Linked DNA regions of Homo sapiens. The protein of the gene in region 1 purifies or fractionates together with the protein of each later gene. This does not show direct contact. Each region holds a gene or a part of one and is shown in the gene's direction. Other genes may lie near its edges.

The links.
Region 2: the proteins of SLC22A12 (region 1) and SMAP2 purify together in Homo sapiens (affinity purification with mass spectrometry; 2 studies listed by BioGRID and IntAct, with this or other methods). This does not show direct contact.

The regions. Positions count from the first base shown.
Region 1 is NC_000011.10:64,584,875-64,595,437, forward strand, and holds the start of SLC22A12 (solute carrier family 22 member 12), read left to right. Parts: upstream 1-6,345; 5' UTR 6,346-6,682; coding exon 6,683-7,084; intron 7,085-7,904; coding exon 7,905-8,008; intron 8,009-8,530; coding exon 8,531-8,685; coding exon of another isoform or gene 8,686-8,760; coding exon 8,761-8,929; intron 8,930-10,563. UniProt on the Homo sapiens protein: Electroneutral antiporter that translocates urate across the apical membrane of proximal tubular cells in exchange for monovalent organic or inorganic anions. Involved in renal reabsorption of urate and helps maintaining blood levels of uric acid.
Region 2 is NC_000001.11:40,367,473-40,379,041, forward strand, and holds the start of SMAP2 (stromal membrane-associated protein 2), read left to right. Parts: upstream 1-6,254; 5' UTR 6,255-6,648; coding exon 6,649-6,751; intron 6,752-7,160; exon of another isoform or gene 7,161-7,223; coding exon of another isoform or gene 7,224-7,236; intron 7,237-8,274; exon of another isoform or gene 8,275-8,344; intron 8,345-11,569.

The DNA.
Region 1 (10,563 bases):
CATGGCAAAAACCCGTCTCTACTAAAAATACAAAAATTAGCCGGGCGTGGTGATGCGCACCTGTAATCCCAGCTACTCCAGAGGCTGAGGCAGGAAAATCACTTGAACCTGGGAGGCGGAAGTTGCAGTGAGCTGAGATTGCTCACTGGTGACAGGGCAAGACTCCATCTCAAAAAAATAATAATAAAAAAAATTTGTAAACGCAGGTGGATGCTTCATCCTCTCTTCCCCTCTGTGGCTGGATGCACACGAGCACAGCCAGCGTGGATGCCAAGGACAGAGCTGCGAGATGGGGAGAGCCTGCGTTCCCAGACACCTCTTGGAGGAGAGCTGCCCACAGTCAGCAACAGCCATTTGGGACTTTACACAATCAATAAATAAACTTCTACTGTGTTTGAGCTGCTATACATTTCGAGGTTGGCTTGCCACAGCAGCCAGCGTTACTCTAATTAATGCGAACCACATCCCCATTTTCCTGCTTCTCCTTAGAGTGAAACTCCGTAGGTGAGCTGCCTGTCTTCACCGACTTCACTTCCCTGCCTCCAGCACTCTCACAGTCCTGTGCCTCTGTGCACTTCACCTCACCCCTCCACGGTAAACCCTCAAGCCAGGGCCCTCAGAGAAGTCCATGCTGCCAAATCCAGGGGCTAATTCTAGACCTTATCCCACCCCACCTCTCAGCAGGATGAGACTTTTTTGTTTCCTTGTTTTTGAGATGGAGTTTCACTCTTGTTGCCCAGGCTGGAGTGCAATGACGTGATCTCGGCTCACCACAACGTCTGCCTCCCAGGTCCAAGAAATTCTCCTGCCTCAGCCTCCTGAGTAGCTGGGATTACAGGCATGTGCCACCATGCCTGGCTAATTTTTTGTATTTTTAGTAGAGACAGGGTTTCACCATGTTGGCCAGGCTGGTCTCGAACTTCTGACCTCAGGTGATTCACCTGCCTCAGCCTCCCAAAGTGCTGGGATTACAGGCGTGAGCCACCGCGCCCGGCCAAGGATGTGACATTGCTGATTGACTCTGTCAGATACTTTTCACTCTGGCTTCCGGGGCATCCTGCTGTCCTGGTTTCCAGGCCTCACTGGTTTTGCCTTCACAGCTCTTTTGCTGGGTCATCCTCTTACTGACCTCTCAACATCAGAGACCAAAGGCTCCATCACAAACGTCATCTCTTTGCTATGAAAGCTTGCACCCTACGTGAGCTTATCCAGTCCTGTGACTTAAAATGCCTTTTATCCCCTAATTATTCCCAAGTCGCTCCATGATGCCACCACCTGGATGGCTAATAGACATGTCAATATCATCACACAAAAAAAGATTTATTTTCCCATCAAACTTGCTTCTCCCCGAGTGTTCTGCTTCTCTGTAAATGGCCCACCATCCACCCACCACCCACCTGATCATCAGTTTATCCTTTTTCTTCACCCTCGGCCCTGTATTTAGTCAAAGAAAAGCAATATGCCCCAAACCCAAGCATTTCTCTCCACCTGCCCTAATCCCCTAGCCCTGACCCTCATTGCTCACATGATCCACCCCAACAGCCTCCTGGGGGAACCCCTTCTTCTATATTTGTCCCATTTTCAGTCTGTTCTCCACACAGCAGCCAGGGAGATTTGTAAAAACATTAGTCAGATCATGCCACTTCTCTCCTCAAAACCCTATAAGGAAGTGTATGTTTTGGCCCCAAAACTGCTCTACTTTTCCCACTCACTTCTCCCCAACCATACTGGCCTCCTTCCTACTTCTTGAGCATAAAATCACATGCCCACCCCAGGGTCTTTGCATAATACTCTTCCCTCTGCCTGCAATATTCTTTCCCCAGTCAACTGTGTGTCTTGTCCCCTCATCTACTTGGGTCTCTTTCAATGCCACCTCCACAGAGAAGTCTTCCCTGACTGCCCCACCCAAAGTGGCAACATGATCCTTACTCTCTGCCCCTTATGCTATCTTGTTCTCTCCACAGCATGATTACTACTTGTCACTATATTCATTTATTTCTTGATGTGTTTCTCCTCTCTCATTGGCATGTCTTTCTACATATCAATGAGAACAGGGAATTATCTTGTTTGTTCACCGCTGCATCCCTGTGCCTAGAGCAGTGGCTGGTGCATTATCAACACTCAGCTCAACAAATGAATATTGATATTAAGAAGAAAGACACTCTTCTTTTTTTTTTTTTTTTTTTTTTGAGACAGAATCTTGCTCTGTCACCCAGGCTGGAGTGCAGTGGCGTGATCTTGGCTCCACTGCAACCTCCGCCTCATGGATTCAAGCAATTCTCCTGCCTCAGCAACCCTGGTAGCTGGGATTACAGGTGTGTGCCACCACCTCTGGCTAATTTTTGTATTTTTACTAGAGGCAGGGTTTCCCCATGTTGGCCAGGCTGGTCTCAAACTCCTGACCTCAAGTGATCCACTCGCCTCGGCCTCCCAAAGTGCTGGGATTCCGGCCGTGAGCCACCACGCCTGGCCCAAGAGAAACACTCGTAATATCCACTAAGAGATCAAGGAAATTATTCCACCTATGAAACAAGAAGTGGAAACTAGGAAACAAGAAGAAGCAGTTATAGGAAGAACCAAACACGGATTCTGAAATGGAAATTACACATTCTGAAATTAAAATGCTGGTGATTTGGGGCTGGGTGCAGTGGCTCATGCCTATAATCCCAGTACTTTGGGAGGCCGAGGTGGGCAGATCAGTTGAGGCCAGGAGTTCGAGACCAGCCTGGCCAACATGGTGAAACCCCATCGATATTAAAAATACAAAAATTAGCTGGGCATGGTGGCACATGCCTATAGACCCAGCTACTTAGGAGGCTGAGGCATGAGAATTGCTTGAACCTGGGCAGTGGAGACTGCAATGGGCCAAGATGGCGCCACTGCACTCCAGCCTGGGCAACAGAGCAAGACTCTGACTCAACTTAAAAAAAAAAAAGTGGAGAAAGCTGCATGAGAAGCATTTTTTTGGGAGAGCTCAGCTTTGGCCACACTAAGTGTGAGATGTTTATTAAGCACCTAAGATTAGGCAGTTGGATCAAAATCTAGCATTCCAAGAAGAGGTACAGGCTAAAGATGTGAATGGACCAGATGATAGAGAATATAGAGAAGACCAAGGAGTGAGCTCAGTGGCCTCCAATGTTAACAGTGTGTGGAGAAGAGGAAAACCCAACCAAGAAGATTGAGAACTAGTGAGTCCTGGAGGCCCAGGGAAGAAAGTATTCTCAGATGGAGATCAGAGACAGATGGCTCAAGTAAGATGAGGACTGAAAATGTCATTGAATCTAGCAGCATGGAGGTCATTGGTGACAGCAGAGTGATAGGGGCAAAACCTTGATGGGAATGAATCCAAAAACAAACAAAAAAATGGGAAGACAGAAACTGGAAATGAGTGTCAATAATACTTTCATAGAATTTTGTTGTAAATACAAGCAAAGGTGGGGCAGTCGCTTAAGAAGAAAGAGGGGCTCAAATGGAGGGGGAGTTTTTGGAAGGCTACAGAAAAAAATGGCATATTTGTACATTGGTGGAAATTATCCAGTAGCGAGGGAAAGACAAATGCCAAAGAGAGATGTGAGCAGGCAAAGGGGGGTGGGCTCTAGGCACACAGTGAGGGGTTGGCATGGATGAGAGAGAAACCAAACTGGGTGGAAGGAAGGCAGAATGTGGGGGCACCAAGGCAGGTGAGCTGGTGAGAGAATTAGACTGTTGGCTTCTGATGGCTTCTATTGTTTTAGTGAAATAAGAAAAAAGGTCATCTATTGAGAGAGAGGATAGAAGAGAAGGTGGTAGGTTTGAAGAGAGAAGATGGTATCAAATAACCCCTGGTTTGTGTGTTCAAATATAAGGGTAACAGAAATAAAACGTACAACTGACAGACCAAGACAGTAGAAGAATATAACAAGAAAACTTAATGGATTCAGTAGAAATTAGGAACAAGGAAACCAAGATTTAAAGGGAAAATGTGGTAAACAAGAAAACATACAGTAAGTCCAAACATGTCAATAATTACAATAAATGTGAACAGGTTAAAATCGCTAATTAAAAGGCAGAGGTATTTCTTTTGGATTTTACAAAAGGAAATGTAAAGCTTATTTGGCAGCTCAAGCTGATGAAGCTAAACATATCAGTTACTAAAACAAAGTCTGCACATATTTACACCAAACTGTAAACAGTAGTGTAACTCACTGGTTGATGAGTATATGAGGGATCTTTATTTTCATTTCAATATGTTCTGAATTTTTGAGGAAGTGTGTAAATTATTTCATAATTAGAAAATAAATGAAATTTTTAAAAAAATCATCCATGCACTTCAGCAAGTCTCCATGGAACCTTTATTTGTTGTCCAAATCAGTTCCAAAGAGCCTCTAAAGAAGGGTTCCAGACTACCAGGAGCTCACTGGAAATAAGACCAACTGGACCATAATAGAAGAATGCAGGTCATGGCTGGGTGCCGCAACTCACACCACTTTGGGAGGCCAAGGCAGGCAGATCACCTGAGGTCAGGAGTTTGAGAAGAATGCAGGACAGTGTAAAGATGAGATTCCACTGACAACTCTGAGCCCTAGTTGTAGGCAGGAATAAGTGAAGAGAGCCCGCTGGAGGAGGAGTATTTGGACTGTGCCCATTCCACACAGTATGTGGCCTAAGGGTGAGCCTGGAGACAGCATTCCAGGCTGGAGGTCCAACATAAGCAAGGGTGGGAACTGAGAAAGCATGTACAGGGCATGTGGTGGAAGCAGTGGATGACTCAAGGTGCAGAGCCCAGGGAGGCAAAGAAGTTGGCTTGGTAAGCCATGTGGAGGGGCAGCGGGAAGAGTCGGTGAAGCAAAAAGAAGCAGATGGGAGGGGCATTTATGCCTCAAATGGAGAGTTTTATGCCCAAAGCTCATAAGAGCAAACACCTGGGTTGCCATCACTGCTGCACTGCACATATACGCATGCACACATGTACACACATGCACTTGTGCAAACACATGTGCACACATACACAGACATGTGCACACACCCACATATACATACACTTCTTTTTTTTCTTTTCTTTTTTTTTTTTTTTTTGAGATAAGAGTCTTTCTCTGTCAACCAGGCTGGAGGGCAGTGGTGCAATCTCAGCTTGCTGCAACCTCTGCCTCCTGGGTTCAAGAGATTCTCCTGCCTCAGCCTCCCAAGTAGCTGGAATTACAGCTGTGCACCACGACCATGCTCAGCTAACTTTTGTATTTTTAGTAGAGATGGGTTTTTGCCATGTTGGCCAAGCTGGTCTTGAACTCTTGACCTCAAGTGATCCCCCCACCTCGGCCTCCCAAAGTGCTGGGATTACAGGCATGAGCCACCACGCCCGGCCATGCACACACACTTTTTAACTGCTTTGTGTTCTCTGGCCCTTTCGCCTACAGAATTAGCTATCGAGACCAAGGGGGTTCTCTTGGCCTCGGTCCAGCCTTTCCTGAACCCCACACCCTGCATCAGCACACACTGCTGTCCACTCACCTGCCCTAGTAAGTCACCACTAGCTGTTGTTGACTGGGAGCCCCTTGGCTTTTAAGCAGGATTTGACCCAAGGGCTCGCAGTGCGTGGTGGGTCCAGGGGCAGGAGTTGAGGCAGAAAGACAAGGGCAGGGACAGCTGTGGAGTGGGGGAGGTGGGAGAGAGAAATCCTTAGGAGGCAAAACTAGCCAGGCTTGGCCCCTGGTGGATTTGGGAGGCAGGGAGCAGGAGGCGTGAACCAAGACGCTGGGTTCCAGGCCAGACACTGTGACATGAGAGGCCATAGCTGAGGTGGGGCTCTGCAGGAGGCATAGATTTGGGGAGGGGACAGAGATCTCAGGGTGGCATTGGGCACACCGAACCTGGGGAGTCTGTGGGGTGTCTGTTGATGCTGGGAAGCTCCACCGAGGACTCAGGACAGGGTAACAGCAAAGCGGGCACAGGACGCCAACCACAGCAGGTGAGTGGAGGCAGGAGCCACGGGTGGGGCCAGGCCACACAGCCTGGGAGGCGCAGGGGCTGGGCAGCTGCCAGTGACCCAAGCCCACACAGAGACTTGCACAGCTGCCCCAGCCCCAAATTAGGGGGATCCCCTGGCCCACCTTCTCTTGGCTCAGCCACTCTGGGAGGTGGGCACACAGGGGCACCGAAGGGAGCAGGCAGCCCTGGCATCCCACAGCCGCCAGGAGAAAAACTTAGGCCTCCCCAAGACCTGGCACAGAGCAGGCCGGCCCTGGCCCCCAAGCAGAGGAGGCTGCACCTCCCTCGCGTCTGTGCCTGCCTCAACGCGGGTTAAACTTTGACCAAGGAAATGATTGCTAAACTCGATTCCATAAGTGTCACCGGTCACACTTTAATTCCAGTCTAAAATTAAAGTCTTCAGTCTCCACATTCCCTACTTTCCAAATTCAGCTTTCCCGGGAGGTCTGGAGCAGCTGCCTCTCTGGGGAGATGCTGGAGGTCTCGGAATCACCTCACGCGGCCTCAGGGCCCAGTTGGAGCCACCCCAAGTGACACCAGCAGGCAGATGACCAGAGAGCCTGAGCCTCCGGCCCCGAGTCTGTGAAGCCTAGCCGCTGGGCTGGAGAAGCCACTGTGGGCACCACCGTGGGGGAAACAGGCCCGTTGCCCTGGCCTCTTTGCCCTGGGCCAGCCTTTGTGAAGTGGGCCCCTCTTCTGGGCCCCTTGAGTAGGTTCCATGGCATTTTCTGAACTCCTGGACCTCGTGGGTGGCCTGGGCAGGTTCCAGGTTCTCCAGACGATGGCTCTGATGGTCTCCATCATGTGGCTGTGTACCCAGAGCATGCTGGAGAACTTCTCGGCCGCCGTGCCCAGCCACCGCTGCTGGGCACCCCTCCTGGACAACAGCACGGCTCAGGCCAGCATCCTAGGGAGCTTGAGTCCTGAGGCCCTCCTGGCTATTTCCATCCCGCCGGGCCCCAACCAGAGGCCCCACCAGTGCCGCCGCTTCCGCCAGCCACAGTGGCAGCTCTTGGACCCCAATGCCACGGCCACCAGCTGGAGCGAGGCCGACACGGAGCCGTGTGTGGATGGCTGGGTCTATGACCGCAGCATCTTCACCTCCACAATCGTGGCCAAGGTAGGGCCTCCCCCAGAGCCACTCGAGTCCCACCACCTTGGAGGTCAGTCATGGATCACGGTGGGTCAGACTCAAAGGTCCAGTCCTGGGAGGGACCCACCTCCCCAGGCCCCACTCACTCTCGAGCCTCTCAGCCCCTCGTCAGCCACACACAGGGAAGTGGGCGGCAGGGATCAGTCTACAAATGGGGCCAGCCCAGGCTCTTGGAGGTGCGGGGGGCACCTGGGCGGGCACCTCTAAATGCTGGCACCTGGACACTCACCGGCCTCACCCTGTCCTGGCCCTGCTGACCTGTCAGCCGTGACTCCAGGCAACTCAGCAGCAGGGGGACTCAGTGACAATTCACTGGATTCCCCGAGACCAAAGCACACAGAGTAAGGGATTACCCCAGGCTGCCTCCCAGATGGGGCGCCAGGCAAAGCCAGGCAAGCAGAGAGGGGCAGCTCATCCCAACAAGTGGGAAGAACCTCTTTATAAAGAACAGGAGGGAAGCAACCTCTGGGAGAGGGGTGAGGGTGTCAGCTTGGGTGGCTGCTTCCAAGTGGAGAGACAGGAGAGAGGGGCAGATGTGGCTAGAGACCCATTGGGCAATAGGGAGCCATGGAAGAGTTCAGGCAGAGGGTGGCAGGATATACTCCTCAAAAGGCCAAACTATGCCTGTGGGTGCCCTCACTGTTCCACAGGGTCTTGCTCTAAAACCCTAGAGGTCACCAGACCACCCACCGCACCCAGCTCCCTGGGGGCCCTCCCATGCGGTTCCTCTGCCTCTCTGCTGGGGCTCTCCCAACCTCCTGAGCTCAGCCTCCTCCTCTCCCATCAGTGGAACCTCGTGTGTGACTCTCATGCTCTGAAGCCCATGGCCCAGTCCATCTACCTGGCTGGGATTCTGGTGGGAGCTGCTGCGTGCGGCCCTGCCTCAGACAGGTGAGTACCCCCAGTCCAGGCAGGTCCCAGTTCCCCTCACAACCCCTGCTCTCCTAGGACCCTGGCCGACTGGCCCCAAACCAGCCTCACAAAACCAAGTCTAGAAAGCGCCCTACTTGCTGGGTGTGGGTCTCGGACCAGCCACCCTGCAGCCGTGCCAGGTAGGGAGGTCTGGAACCTTCTCTGAACCTCGAGTTCACCAACTTTACTCTGGGGGTTGTAGAGGATTTCTGCTCCCCAGCAAACATTCACTGCTAAAACTGGCTTGGCCATGCGCCTTCCTTCAGCAGCAACCTGAGTGCTCCTGGTGACTGGAGCCCATTCCCTTTGGCTCTGGCCTCGGGACTCTCCTTGTGCTCCGGAGGGTTCCGTAGGTGGAGAATGTAGGTTTCACCCAGGTGCCGCTTCAGTGTCCGCCTCAGCTCAGCGGGCAAGCATAGGGTGGGCTCTAGGTGTTCCAGAGCCCCGTGGCCTGTGCCGTGGCAAGCCACAGACCCTGCCTCTTCCTGGTTTGTGCCGCAGGTTTGGGCGCAGGCTGGTGCTAACCTGGAGCTACCTTCAGATGGCTGTGATGGGTACGGCAGCTGCCTTCGCCCCTGCCTTCCCCGTGTACTGCCTGTTCCGCTTCCTGTTGGCCTTTGCCGTGGCAGGCGTCATGATGAACACGGGCACTCTCCGTAGGTCTCTGACCTGGCGCCATGCAGGGGGGCTCCATGCAGGCTCCAGGGCTGAACCACTCGGTCTCCTTGCAGTGATGGAGTGGACGGCGGCACGGGCCCGACCCTTGGTGATGACCTTGAACTCTCTGGGCTTCAGCTTCGGCCATGGCCTGACAGCTGCAGTGGCCTACGGTGTGCGGGACTGGACACTGCTGCAGCTGGTGGTCTCGGTCCCCTTCTTCCTCTGCTTTTTGTACTCCTGGTGGGTGCTGTGCCCCACTCCCCTCCTCAGAGGAGATCCTGCCCACTCTCCACCCGGGGGAATGGGAGACTCTCCTTTCCCTGGGGGCTGGGGAGTGCTAGAGGCCAGGGGTGCATGGGCTGGAGGAAAGCCAGGAGCGTGGCAGAGTGTACCACCCACAAACCCAAGACACCCACTTCAACCAGGGCTTGGGTCCCCAGGGCGCCTCCCCTGCTCCTCTCAAGTGCTCCTTCTCCTACTTATTCTTCTCTTTTCCTCCCTCCTCCTCATCTCTTGGCCTATTCTCCTCTCCTGTCCCTGCCTGCCTTGGCATCTATGCTGCCAGGCCCATCTTCTGAGCCCCTCCTCTGTGTGTGCCAGGCATGGCAGCACTGAGCTAGGCTAGGGGAGCGAGTGGAAAGATACAACACATGCCCGCACACACAGCGCACAGCCGCAGTCTGCTTCATGGGCTGACAGAATCAATGCTTGTGTCTGTCTGCTGGAAGACAGGGACCAGGATCCACTCATCAGAGGGGAGTCCACAGTCCCCACAGAGGGCCGGCATGTGTGGGAGGTTAGGAAATGTCAGCACTGCCCTGAAACAAATCAGGCGTGGCCCTTGCCGAGCACCTGGCACATAGTAGGTGCTAAATAAATATTTGTTGAATGGATGAATTGTTAGGTAAGTAGAAATAGATAGATAGGTAGGTAGGTAGGTAGGTAGGTAGGTAGGTAGGTAGATAGATAGAGACAGATAAATAAATGGGTTGACAGATGTGTGGATTGGATGAGTGGATGGGTGAGTTGGTGGATAGATGGATTGGATTGTATAGATGAATTGAATGGATGGTTGAATGGATGGATAGATGGATGGATGGTTGGAATAGATGGATGGACGGATGGATGGATGGATGGATGGATGGATGGATGGATGGATGGACGGACAGACGGACGGACGGTTGGATGGATGGATGGATGGATGGATGAATGGATAGTTGGAATAAATGGATGGATGGATGAATGGATGGATGGATGGGTGGATGGACGGACGGATGGATGGACAGATGGAATGGATGGATGGATGGTTGGAATGGATGGATGGATGGAATGGATGGATGGATGGAATGGATGGATGGATTGTTGAATGGATGGTTGGATGGATGGATGGATGGATGGTTGGAATAGATGGATGGATGGATGGGTGGATGGATGGATGGATGGATGGATGGATGGATGGTTGGAATAGATGGATGGATGGATGGGTGGATGGATGGATGGATGGATGGATGGATAGATGGATAGATGGAAAGGATGGATGGATGGATGGATGGATGGATGGATGGATGGATGGTTGAATGGATGGTTGAATGGATGGTTGGATGGATGGATGGATGGATGGATGGACGGATGGATGGATGTTTGGAATAGATGGATGGATGGATGGATGGATGGATGGATGGATGGATGGAATGGATGGATGGATGGATGGATGGTTGAATGGATGGTTGGATGGATGGATGGATGGATGGATGGATGGATGGATGGATGGTTGAATGGATGGTTGAATGGATGGATGGATGGATGGATGGATGGATGGATGGATGGATGGACGGACGGATGGATGGATGGATGTTTGGAATAGATGGATGGAT
Region 2 (11,569 bases), on another chromosome or scaffold:
TGTAAAAGAACAGAAATTATAACAAACTATCTCTCAGACCACAGTGCAATCAAACTAGAACTCAGGATTAAGAATCTCACTCAAAGCCGCTCAACTACATGGAAACTGAACAACCTGCTCCTGAATGACTACTGGGTACATAACGAAATGAAGGCAGAAATAAAGATGTTCTTTGAAACCAACGAGAACAAAGACACAACATACCAGAATCTCTGGGATGCATTCAAAGCAGTGTGTAGAGGGAAATTTTTAGCACTAAATGCCCACAAGAGAAAGCAGGAAAGATCCAAAATTGACACCCTAACATCACAATTAAAAGAACTAGAAAGCAAGAGCAAACACATTCAAAAGCTAGCAGAAGGCAAGAAATAACTAAAATCAGAGCAGAACTGAAGAAAATAGAGACACAAAAAACCCTTCAAAAAATCAGTGAATCCAGGAGCTGGTTTTTTGAAAGGATCAACAAAATTGATAGACCGCTAGCAAGACTAATAAAGAAAAAAAGAGAGAAGAATCAAATAGACACAATAAAAAATGATAAAGGGGATAGCACCACCGATCCCACAGAAATACAAACTACCATCAGAGAATACTACAAACACCTCTACGCAAATAAACTAGAAAATCTAGAAGAAATGGATAAATTCCTCGACACATACACTCTCCCAAGACTAAACCAGGAAGAAGTTGAATCTCTTAATAGACCAATAACAGGAGCTGAAATTGTGGCAATAATCAATAGCTTACCAACCAAAAAGAGTCCAGGACTAGATGGATTCACAGCCGAATTCTACCAGAGGTACAAGGAGGAACTGGTACCATTCCTTCTGAAACTATTCCAATCAATAGAAAAAGAGGGAATCCTCCCTAACTCATTTTATGAGGCCAGCATCATTCTGATACCAAAGCCGGGCAGAGACACAACAAAAAAAGAGAATTTTAGACCAATATCCTTGATGAACATTGATGCAAAAATCCTCAATAAAATACTGGCAAACCGAATCCAGCAGCACATCAAAAAGCTTATCCACCATGATCAAGTGGGCTTCATCCCTGGGATGCAAGGCTGGTTCAATATACGCAAATCAATAAATGTAATCCAGCATATAAACAGAACCAAAGACAAAAACCACATGATTATCTCAATAGATGCAGAAAAAGCCTTTGACAAAATTCAACAACCCTTCATGCTAAAAACTCTCAATAAATTAGGTATTGATGGGACGTATTTCAAAATAATAAGAGCTATCTATGACAAACCCATAGCCAATATCATACTGAATGGGCAAAAACTGGAAGCATTCCCTTTGAAAACTGGCACAAGACAGGGATGCCCTCTCTCACCACTCCTATTCAACATAGTGTTGGAAGTTCTGGCCAGGGCAATTAGGCAGGAGAAGGAAATAAAGGGTATTCAATTAGGAAAAGAGGAAGTCAAATTGTCCCTGTTTGCAGATGACATGATTGTATATCTAGAAAACCCCATTGTCTCAGCCCAAAATCTCCTTAAGCTGATAAGCAACTTCAGCAAAGTCTCAGGATACAAAATCAATGTACAAAAATCACAAGCATTCTTATACACCAACAACAGACAAACAGAGAGCCAAATCATGAGTGAACTCCCATTCACAATTGCTTCAAAGAGAATAAAATACCTAGGAATCCAACTTACAAGGGATGTGAAGGACCTCTTCAAGGAGAACTACAAACCACTGCTCAAGGAAATAAAAGAGGATACAAACAAATGGAAGAACATTCCATGCTCATGGGTAGGAAGAATCAATATTGTGAAAATGGCCATACTGCCCAAGGTAATTTACAGATTCAATGCCATCCCCATCAAGCTACCAATGACTTTCTTCACAGAATTGGAAAAAACTACTTTAAAGTTCATATGGAACCAAAAAAGAGCCCACATCGCCAAGTCAATCCTAAGCCAAAAGAACAAAGCTGGAGGCATCACACTACCTGACTTCAAACTTTACTACAAGGCTACAATAACCAAAACAGCATGGTACTGGTACCAAAACAGAGATATAGATCAATGGAACAGAACAGAGCCCTCAGAAATAACGCCGCATACCTACAACTGTCTGATCTTTGACAAACCTGAGAAAAACAAGAAATGGGGAAAGGATTCCCTATTTAATAAATGGTGCTGGGAAAACTGGCTAGCCATATGTAGAAAGCTGAAACTGGATCCCTTCCTTACACCTTATACAAAAATCAATTCAAGATGGATTAAAGATTTAAACGTTAGACCTAAAACCATAAAAACCCTAGAAGAAAACCTAGGCATTACCATTCAGAACATAGGCATGGGCAAGGACTTCATGTCCAAAACACCAAAAGCAATGGCAACAAAAGACAAAATTGACAAATGGGATCTAATTAAACTAAAGAGCTTCTGCACAGCAAAAGAAACTACCATCAGAGTGAACAGGCAACCTACAAAATGGGAGAAAATTTTCGCAACCTACTCATCTGACAAAGGGCTAATATCCAGAATCTACAATGAACTCAACCAAATTTACAAGAAAAAAACAAACAACCCCATCAAAAAGTGGGCAAAGGACATGAACAGACACTTCTCAAAAGAAGACATTTATGCAGCCAAAAAACACATGAAAAAATGCTCATCATCACTGGCCATCAGAGAAATGCAAATCAAAACCACAATGAGATACCATCTCACACCAGTTAGAATGGCAATCATTAAAAAGTCAGGAAACAACAGGTGCTGGAGAGGATGTGGAGAAATAGGAACACTTTTACATTGTTGGTGGGACTGTAAACTAGTTCAACCATTGTGGAAGTCAGTGTGGCGATTCCTCAGGGATCTAGAACTAGAAATACCATTTGACCCAGCCATCCCATTACTGGGTATATACCCAAATGACTATAAATCATGCTGCTATAAAGACACATGCACACGTATGTTTATTGCGGCATTATTCACAATAGCAAAGACTTGGAACCAACCCAAATGTCCAACAATGATAGACTGGATTAAGAAAATGTGGCACATATACACCATGGAATACTATGCAGCCATAAAAAATGATGAGTTCATGTCCTTTGTAGGGACATGGATGAAATTGGAAATCATCATTCTTAGTAAACTATCACAAGAACAAAAAACCAAACACCGCATATTCTCACTCATAGGTGGGAATTGAACAATGAGATCACATGGACACAGGAAGGGGAATATCACACTCTGGGGACTGTGGTGGGGTAGGGGGAGGGGGGAGGGATAGCATTGGGAGATATACCTAATGCTAGATGACGAGTTAGTGGGTGCAGCGCACCAGCATGGCACATGTATACATATGTAACTAACCTGCACAATGTGCACATGTACCCTAAAACTTAAAGTATAATAAAAAAAAAAAAAAAAGAAAAGAAAATTCTATAACTGGCCAGGCGCGGTGGCTCATGCCAGTAATCCTAGTACTTTGGGAGGCTGAGGTGGGCGGGTCACGAGGTCAGGAGATTGAGACCATCCTGGCTAACAGGGTGAAACCCTGCCTCTATTAAAATACAAAAAATTAGCCAGGAGTGGTGGCACGTGCCTGTAGTCCTAGCTACTTGGGAGGCTGAGGCAGGAGAATTGCTTGAACCTGGGAGGCGGAGGTTGCAGTGAGCCGAGATCGCACCACTGCACTCCAGCCTGGCGACAGAGCGAGACTCGGTCTCAAAAAAAAAAATTTTATAACTAATGTGGAAACAGTTTTATGATAAGATAACATGTGCATGATGGAACAGAGTGAACATTTTTGCAAGACTAGTCAAAGCAAAATTCAAGACTTCAAAAAAAAAAATGTGTACTTGGGAGGAGCAGTTTGCTTTGTTTATATCCTCAGACCCTGGGCTATGCACTCACTTTACTCTGCTATTAGTAATGATAATAAAAAGAGCTAATACTTGATGTATCTGCTAGGATAGGCTAGCTTATACAGTGGTAAACAAACAAAACTCAATGGCAACACAATGCTTATTTCTTGCTTATGCTAAGTTATCCTCTATGGGCTGGCAGAGAGCTCTTGTTTATCAGCTACACAGAAATCCAGGCTAATAGAGCAACCAACATCTTCAGCATCAATAGTTGCCATGCCAGAGGGAAAGAGAAGCACAAGAGGCTCAAAGCAACAAATAAATGCTTCAGAGACAAAGTAATCCATCCTTTCTGCTCAAACTCATTGGTCTTTCCCAATCACTTGAAGGCCAGGAAATAAAATCCTACCATGTGCTCAGAAGGCAAAACGCCAGAAATATTTAGTGAAGAGCGCTAATTGTCTATCATTCACTATCTACCAAGGGCTGTTCTAATTATATTACAGGCATTATCTCAGCTAAGCCTCATAATAATCTTGTGAAATAGGTACTATTAATGTTATCATCATTCCCATTCTATAGATGAAATAACTGAGGCACCAAGAGGCTAAGTAACCTGCTCAAAGTCACACAGATAATAGGTGGTAAAAGCTGAAGATTTAAACTTAAGCATTCTTGCCCCAGAGTCTGTGTGCTTAACCACAAAGCCATGAGATCTCTCACTAGGTGGGAACAATTTGAGAAACACTGCCATAGGCAATGGAGAGCCACTAAAGGATTTTTTAAGCAGGAAGTGTGAGTCCATCAGAATTGGCATTTAAAAGCTCCCTCTAGAGAGCACGGTGAAGGATTAATTTAACCAGATTTAGACTAAGGCAGGAAGGCTATTTGCAGAGTGAGGAGATGAAGATGGGGAGGGCTTGAACTAAGGTACAATCACCACTCACCGCAATTAACTGGGTTTTGTTGTTGTTGTTGTTGTTTGAGACAGGGTAACGGGGTACATTGGGGGTTGGAGGGGTGGTTCTTACTGTGTTGCCCAGGCTGGATTCCAACTCCTGGGCTCAAGTGATGCTCTGGCTCTGGCATCCTGAGTAGCTAGGACTACAGGTATGTGCCACCACACCCAGTAACTAGTTAATCTTGACTGTCTATTTCAACTGAAAAATGGTTATGGTAATACCTACTTGGATGGGTTTTCTGAGGAAAAACACCCCAATGAACTTGTGTGTTTTTAAAAGTCAAGTCCCCTAGGCATGGCTAGAAGGGAAGAGGCTTAGCCAGAAAATTTAATTGTTGTGATTAATAAAGTAATAGAAATGTTTAGTTTTCCTCTGATGAGATGAAAGCTTTGAGGGGATCCTGGTCTTGGGAGAAAGTAAAGAAATGGAGGAGAGGGTTTCACCAGAGTTTAGATAACTCTTAGCATCTGCTTACTATCTTCCCTGATTAATTATTTCCATGGCAGCCAGAGTGACCTTTTAAAACCACAAATCGGATCATGCTGTTTCCCTCTCCCCTAGTACAGTGCCTGATACTTAGAAATTTCTCAGTAACATCGTGCTCAGTGAATGAATGAATGAATGAGTGAATGAAAACACAAGCCAGATGGCAGGTGGATCCCTAAGGAAAAGGACAGCCAATGAGAAATTATCTGTAGCAACGGTGGCTTTGGATGATGATGTTTAATAATCATTTTTAAGGAGTTGCCTGTTGTGTGCTATGCTTTAATCACTGTCCCCCACCCTTCCCAAATAACGTTCAGTAAAAGTCTGCCACAAAAAACTCGCTGTTTTGTGAGAATTTAAGAAATGGAAGAAGAAACAAACTGTCTGGGCACCAGGCCAAACAATATCCAAAAAGGCAGGAGTCACAGAGGAGAGCTAATGAGTATTAGTGGGAGCAGGTATTCCAAGTGAGAGGTGACCAGAGTCCTCTGAAAATGTGGGGAGGGGGTGACGTTCCTATATCCTGGGTTAGGGGCTTGGACTCTTATATTTGGCTGTTGGAAAAAACAAGCTGGAGGACTTTGGGGTATCAACAACCCTCAGGTTACATAAGGATGATCATAGGGTCGTTGTGAGGATTATGTTGGGATAGTTCATGCAAAGCGCTTAACACAGTGCCTAGCGCATAGTAAGAGCTCAGTAAATGTTAGTTGTTGTCTTCCTTCACTTTCTTCCATTCCCTCCACTCCCTTTCTACCAGGCTCCATTCATTCTCTTCCAAGGACACGCAGGGGGCGTGCCCACCCCTTCCCTCCGCCCCCACCCAAGGCCCGCCCCCCGCTTCTCCACGGATTGGTTCCCGAGAGGCGGAGCTGAAGGAAGAGCCCAGTGCGGCGCGGTGGGGGCGGGGCGCATGCGCGAGCTGGGCAGGGTGGAGGTGGGGAGGAAGAGCTGCCGGAAGTAGGCGGTGGAGGTGGTAGCGGAGCTGACGGCAGCTGCCAGGGAAACCGAGGCGCGGGACGCAAGGCCAGCAGACAGGCCGGCCAGAGGGTCATCTGCGTCCGGCACCCAGGAGGCTCGTGGTCCGCCTTTGCCTGGGCTGAGGGTCTCTGGCCCCGCAGCCTCTCTTGGAGGCGGGCCTGTCCCTAAGCCCGCCAAGGGGCGCCGCGCCGAGGGGCTGCGGAGTGGGGGACGGACGCCCCCGACCCGGGAAGGGGCGTCCGGCGGGGCCGGAGGAGAGGGCTCTCCCCGCTCAGGAGGTGCCCCTGGGCGGGGGACCGGGAGTCCTCAACCCCGGACTGAGGCAGGGGTCTCTGGGGGCGAGGAGGGCGCGTCGCCCTCTGCCCCCGCCGGCACCCTGGCCATGACAGGCAAGTCGGTGAAGGACGTGGATCGGTACCAGGCTGTCCTGGCCAACCTGCTGCTGGAGGAGGATAACAAGTTTTGTGCAGATTGCCAGTCTAAAGGTAGCGCATCCCACCTGGCGGGCCAGGGGTCCAGCCGCGCCGGGGTGGTGGGGGTGGGCTGCGTGAAGAGGCGGTTTCTGAAGCTTAGGCCGCCCAACTCGGCTTATAAGTGGTAACGCGTGCTGCGCTTGCAGTGAGCCTACTGGGCTTTCTGCAGCTGGGGGATTGGTATGGGTAGAGCTTGCGAGGGCGAGTCTGTGTGTGTCGGGGAGGGTGGAGGTGATGGTGCGGGTGGAAGTTGCCTGGCGTGTTCAGGTGAGAATGTCTGTATTTGAGGGCTCTGAATGAGTTCTGGGCCGGCTGTCCAGAGAGAGCTCCCAGCATGTCACTTGCAAAGCTGGGGATGAACTGCATTGCGTGCGTGCGTGCGTGCGTGTGTGTGTGTGTGTGTGTGTGTGTGTGAGAGAGAGAGAGAGAGAATGACGAGGAGGAGGAGGAGGGAAGTGAGATGGCGGAAAGGAAAACTGCTTAAATGATTTTTAAAGGTGGTGATTTTTGCTTCCTGCTATTTGGTTAGCAACTCCTGTCATTTTGCAGCCTTGCTAAGATCTGACAAGAGTGCTTAGGTGACTTTATTCTTCTGGATGTGTGCAGTGGGAAACTGCCTTATGCAGTGACACAGTGCGGATTTCTAGGCAGTGTAGCCCTGGCTTGTAGAGTGCGTTGGAGGCCTATGTATGAGTGGTGGCAGAAACTAGCCGATTATGCCTGTAGTGCAGGATCCGTTTAATCAGTGGAGAGAGAAAGATGAATTCGATGAATTCATTGCTTCCATGGCGATTACACTTCTAAAGGTGAAATATGATCATTGTAAATTGGCAGAACCATTTAGTCTTTGTTTTCTGTGCCCTAGAAGATTCATGATTTGATACAATTAAAAGTCAGTACAATAGGAAATCTTGGTTATTAGTGAAATGTTGGCACTTGACATTTATACAAGCTTCTATGAATCTTTTTTTCCTGTATTTTCTAATTCTTTTGGCATATAATTGGAGGATTGGGAAAATTATTTTCCCTTTGGTTGGGTCGAAATGGATAGTTATATTTTGGGGGCGACAATTTACTTTTGTTCATAATGCAGTGGATTTGCCATGGTTGTTTGCCGTACAGCGTAGTGGGCATATACTATAAAACAAAGATTCAGTTATATTCGTATTTATCTATTTTGAGAAAGGAAGGACATATTTAATTGATGCTTTCACTTAATTACCTTTTATTTTTGAAGAATAAGGTTATAAAAGGAGAACAGGGGAGGGATACATAGACACCTAGTAATGTATTTTAGTGACCTCTACCAACAGATAAATGGAATGTGCCATTAGGAAAACAAATTCCTAGACTTCTTTCCTGAATTTTTGCATTAGCAATAATTCATTTTAAAAAGTATTTTAGAATCAATTTATGTTGAGTAGGTTAGCTTCTTGATTCTTGTTACATCTTCTGTTAGGTCTATTGGAAGATTTGGTTTATTTTAGGAGTGTATCTTGGCTTTATTCAAATTCCCTTATGTCCTCATTTGACAGATCTTGAGTCACAGTGAAGCAACCCACTGGAGTGAGCATTGCTGCATTTGGAGAGTCAGATGCCATTTTGGTGACTAGAACCCCCCCCCCCATTTCTCATATTACCCTTATACTTACTCATATTCCAATAAAATACAGCACATGGAAGAGAGAGGCTGATTCACTACTTCTTCCTCCAAATTTCCATTGCTTTTTATTTATTTTATTTTTTATTTTTATTTTTTGAGACAGTTTCGCTTTGTCGCCCAGGCTGGAGTGCAATGGTGCAATCTCGGCTCACTGCAACCTCTGCCTCCCGGGTTCAAGTGATTCTCCTGCCTCAGCCTCCCGAGTACCTGGGATTACAGGCGCCCGCCACCATGCCCAGCTGATTTTTGTATTTTTAGTAGAGACAGGGTTTCACCATGTTGGCCAGGCTGGTCTTGAACTCCTGACCTCAGGTGATCCACCCGCCTCAGCCTTCCAAAGTGCTGGGATTACAGGTGTGAGCCACCATGCCCAGCCCGAAATTTCCGTTGCTTTTTATTAATAAGCTTACTGGGGATCAGGTTATGAAATATCAGTTAATTCTTAATGAGAACTAGTAACTGCTGGCTTGTAAACTTTATTAACTACTGTTGATGGTAGAATCCTGGATCCTCAATTTCTTTTCAGAAGTTCGTTTTACATTTTACCAGGTGGCTTCAGGGACTTGGTCATTGTATTAAAAATGAGATGACAATGGGTCAGTCATCTTTAGATTATGACAAATAGGCATTTGTTGAGGCCTCTGTTTATCCAATTTATGAATTACCTATCCCATTCCACCCCTCCAAGCCCTCTCACTCTTTTTCCCCTGCTGTTTTCTAATTTTGGTTGTCATAATGATCATTTGGACAACTATCAGATTGTTGAAGGAAAAGACGTTTGGATCAATAAATTGTTACCTGTTAGCGCTGATAAAAAATACATTTCATTGGAGGAGGAATTTAAAAAGTGTTGGCTAAAATGAGAATTGGGTTTCAGTTTATTTACCTGTATTCCTGTGTCCTTTCCTAAAAAATTGGAAGTTAACTGTACAGGATATGGTGAGTGATTGCTCATCTATTAATATCCAGTTAGATGATGTGGCATAGACTATCGACCTATGAGCAGGTATTTTTGCAATGTTCCAAAATATAACTCTTTGGCAATGACTTTTATTTTTAAATTCTTATACTTATTTAGGAACATTTATTAGTTGACTTTCAAGGTATGTGATTTAAACTTCGGAATAGAGGCTGGGTGTGGTGGCTCAAACCTGTAATCCCAGCACTTTGAGAGGCCAAGGAGGGAGGATCACTTGAGTCCAGGAGTTCAAGACCAGCCTGGGCAACATAGTGTGACCTTGTCTCTACAAATAGTTAAAAAATTAGCTGGGTGTGGTGTTGTGCATCTGTGGTCCCAGCTACTCAGGAGGCTGAGGCAGGAGGATCACCTGGGCAACTGAGCCCAGGAGGTCGAAGCTGCAGTGGGCCATGATTGAGTGCCACTGCGCTGCAGCCTGGGTCAGAGAGCAAGACCCTGTCTCTAAAACAAAACACAACAAATAAACATCAGAATAGAGAACAAGCTTGTGTTCTTTTTACTTCGTACAAGTTTTGTTGATCCTGGGGTTTTTAACTGTCCTGGGCACGAGTCTTACCAGTTTCTGGGACCACTAAACCATTCCAGTAATTTCAGTGTGGGAAAGGAAACTGCTTTGGGGCTGCCTATTTAAGAAATGCTATGATTCTCTCTAGGCTCAAGATGTGATTTCTTCATTACCCAAAGCCCTGGGGTTAATGTGACTTTTAGGGTGAACTTTTGGACTAACTTAGGTAGTGATAGAACAGAGGACAAAACTACTGAAAATTCCAGATATGTCAATGGTAACTCTGGCTGATTGAGGCTGGGTTCCATTTTTGGGTATGGGTCATACTTCCTTTGTACTTGGGGTCATACTGGTCCAAGTTTTAACTTCTAGCTCAGCAGTTCCAGATTTTATCAGTGTGTCAGGAATAATTGCTAAGCCACCCCGTCAGAGACTGTGTTTTAAACTGGACACTATCTTATTTACCATGAAAGGATCTACAGTTGTCCTTTGGTATCCAGGGGGGATTGGTTCCAGGAACCTTCTGGGGTACTAAAATCCACAGATGCTCAAGTCCCTGATATAAATGTTGTAGTGCTTGCATATAACTTATACACATCCTCCCTTATACTTTAAATCATCTCTAGATTACTTATAATATCTAATACAATGTTAATGCTATGCCAGTAGTTGTTACTCTGTATAATTTAGGGAATAATGAGAAGGAAAAAAGTCTGCACATGTTCTGTACAGATGCAACCATTCATTTTTTACTGAATATTTTCTTTCCTTTTTATTTTTTTTAGAGACGGGGTCTTGCTCTGCCACCCAGGCTGGAGTGCAGTGGTGCGATTATAGCTCACTGTAGCCTCAGACTCCTGGGCTCAAGCTGTCCTCCCACTTAGCCTCCCAAAGTGCTGGGACTACAGGCGTGTGCCACGGGGCCCAGCCATTTTTTCGAATATTTTCAATCTGCAGTTGTTTGAATCCACAGATGCAGAACCCATTTCTAATGGAGGGCTGACTATACCTTTCTGATGACCTAAATATTTGTGTCCACTATTGGGACACTCCTTTCTTAGTGTCAAGGTTTGTGAGAAATTGAGGGCTGTTTGATGGGCAAAGATTTATTTATTTATTTACTGGCTTATCTACAATTGAGACAGGGTCTCACTATGTTTCTCAGGCTAGTTCTAACTCCTGGGCTGAAGCAGTCCTCCCATCTCAGCCTCCCAGAGTGCTGGGATTACAGGTGTGACACACCATACCCGGCAGAGCAAAGAGTTAAGAGTACAAGACATTTGATCATCTTGAGGAGTATTTACTTCAGACTGAAACACCACATGAAATTCTAGAGTCCAACAGAAAGTGTAATAATTTTTTGCTTTTCCCTTCTTCTGCTACATCCTATCTCTGAAATGTTTCACCCCACCCAACCACTGCCTCTGTTCCAACTCCTATATTTTTAAATCTACATTTAAATGTACTTTTTGAAAAAGGTAGCACTTTCATGTAGTTCAAAATCCAAAAGGTCCAAAGGGGAATATGTACGGTATAAAATCATTCTGCTGTCCCTCATCTCTGAGCCACCATTTTCACTCCGTGGAAGTAACAATTGTTGGCAATTTCTTTTCTTTTCTTTTCTTTTTTTTTTTTTTTGAGACAGAGTTTCGCTCTTGTTGCCCAGGCTGGCGTGCGATGGCA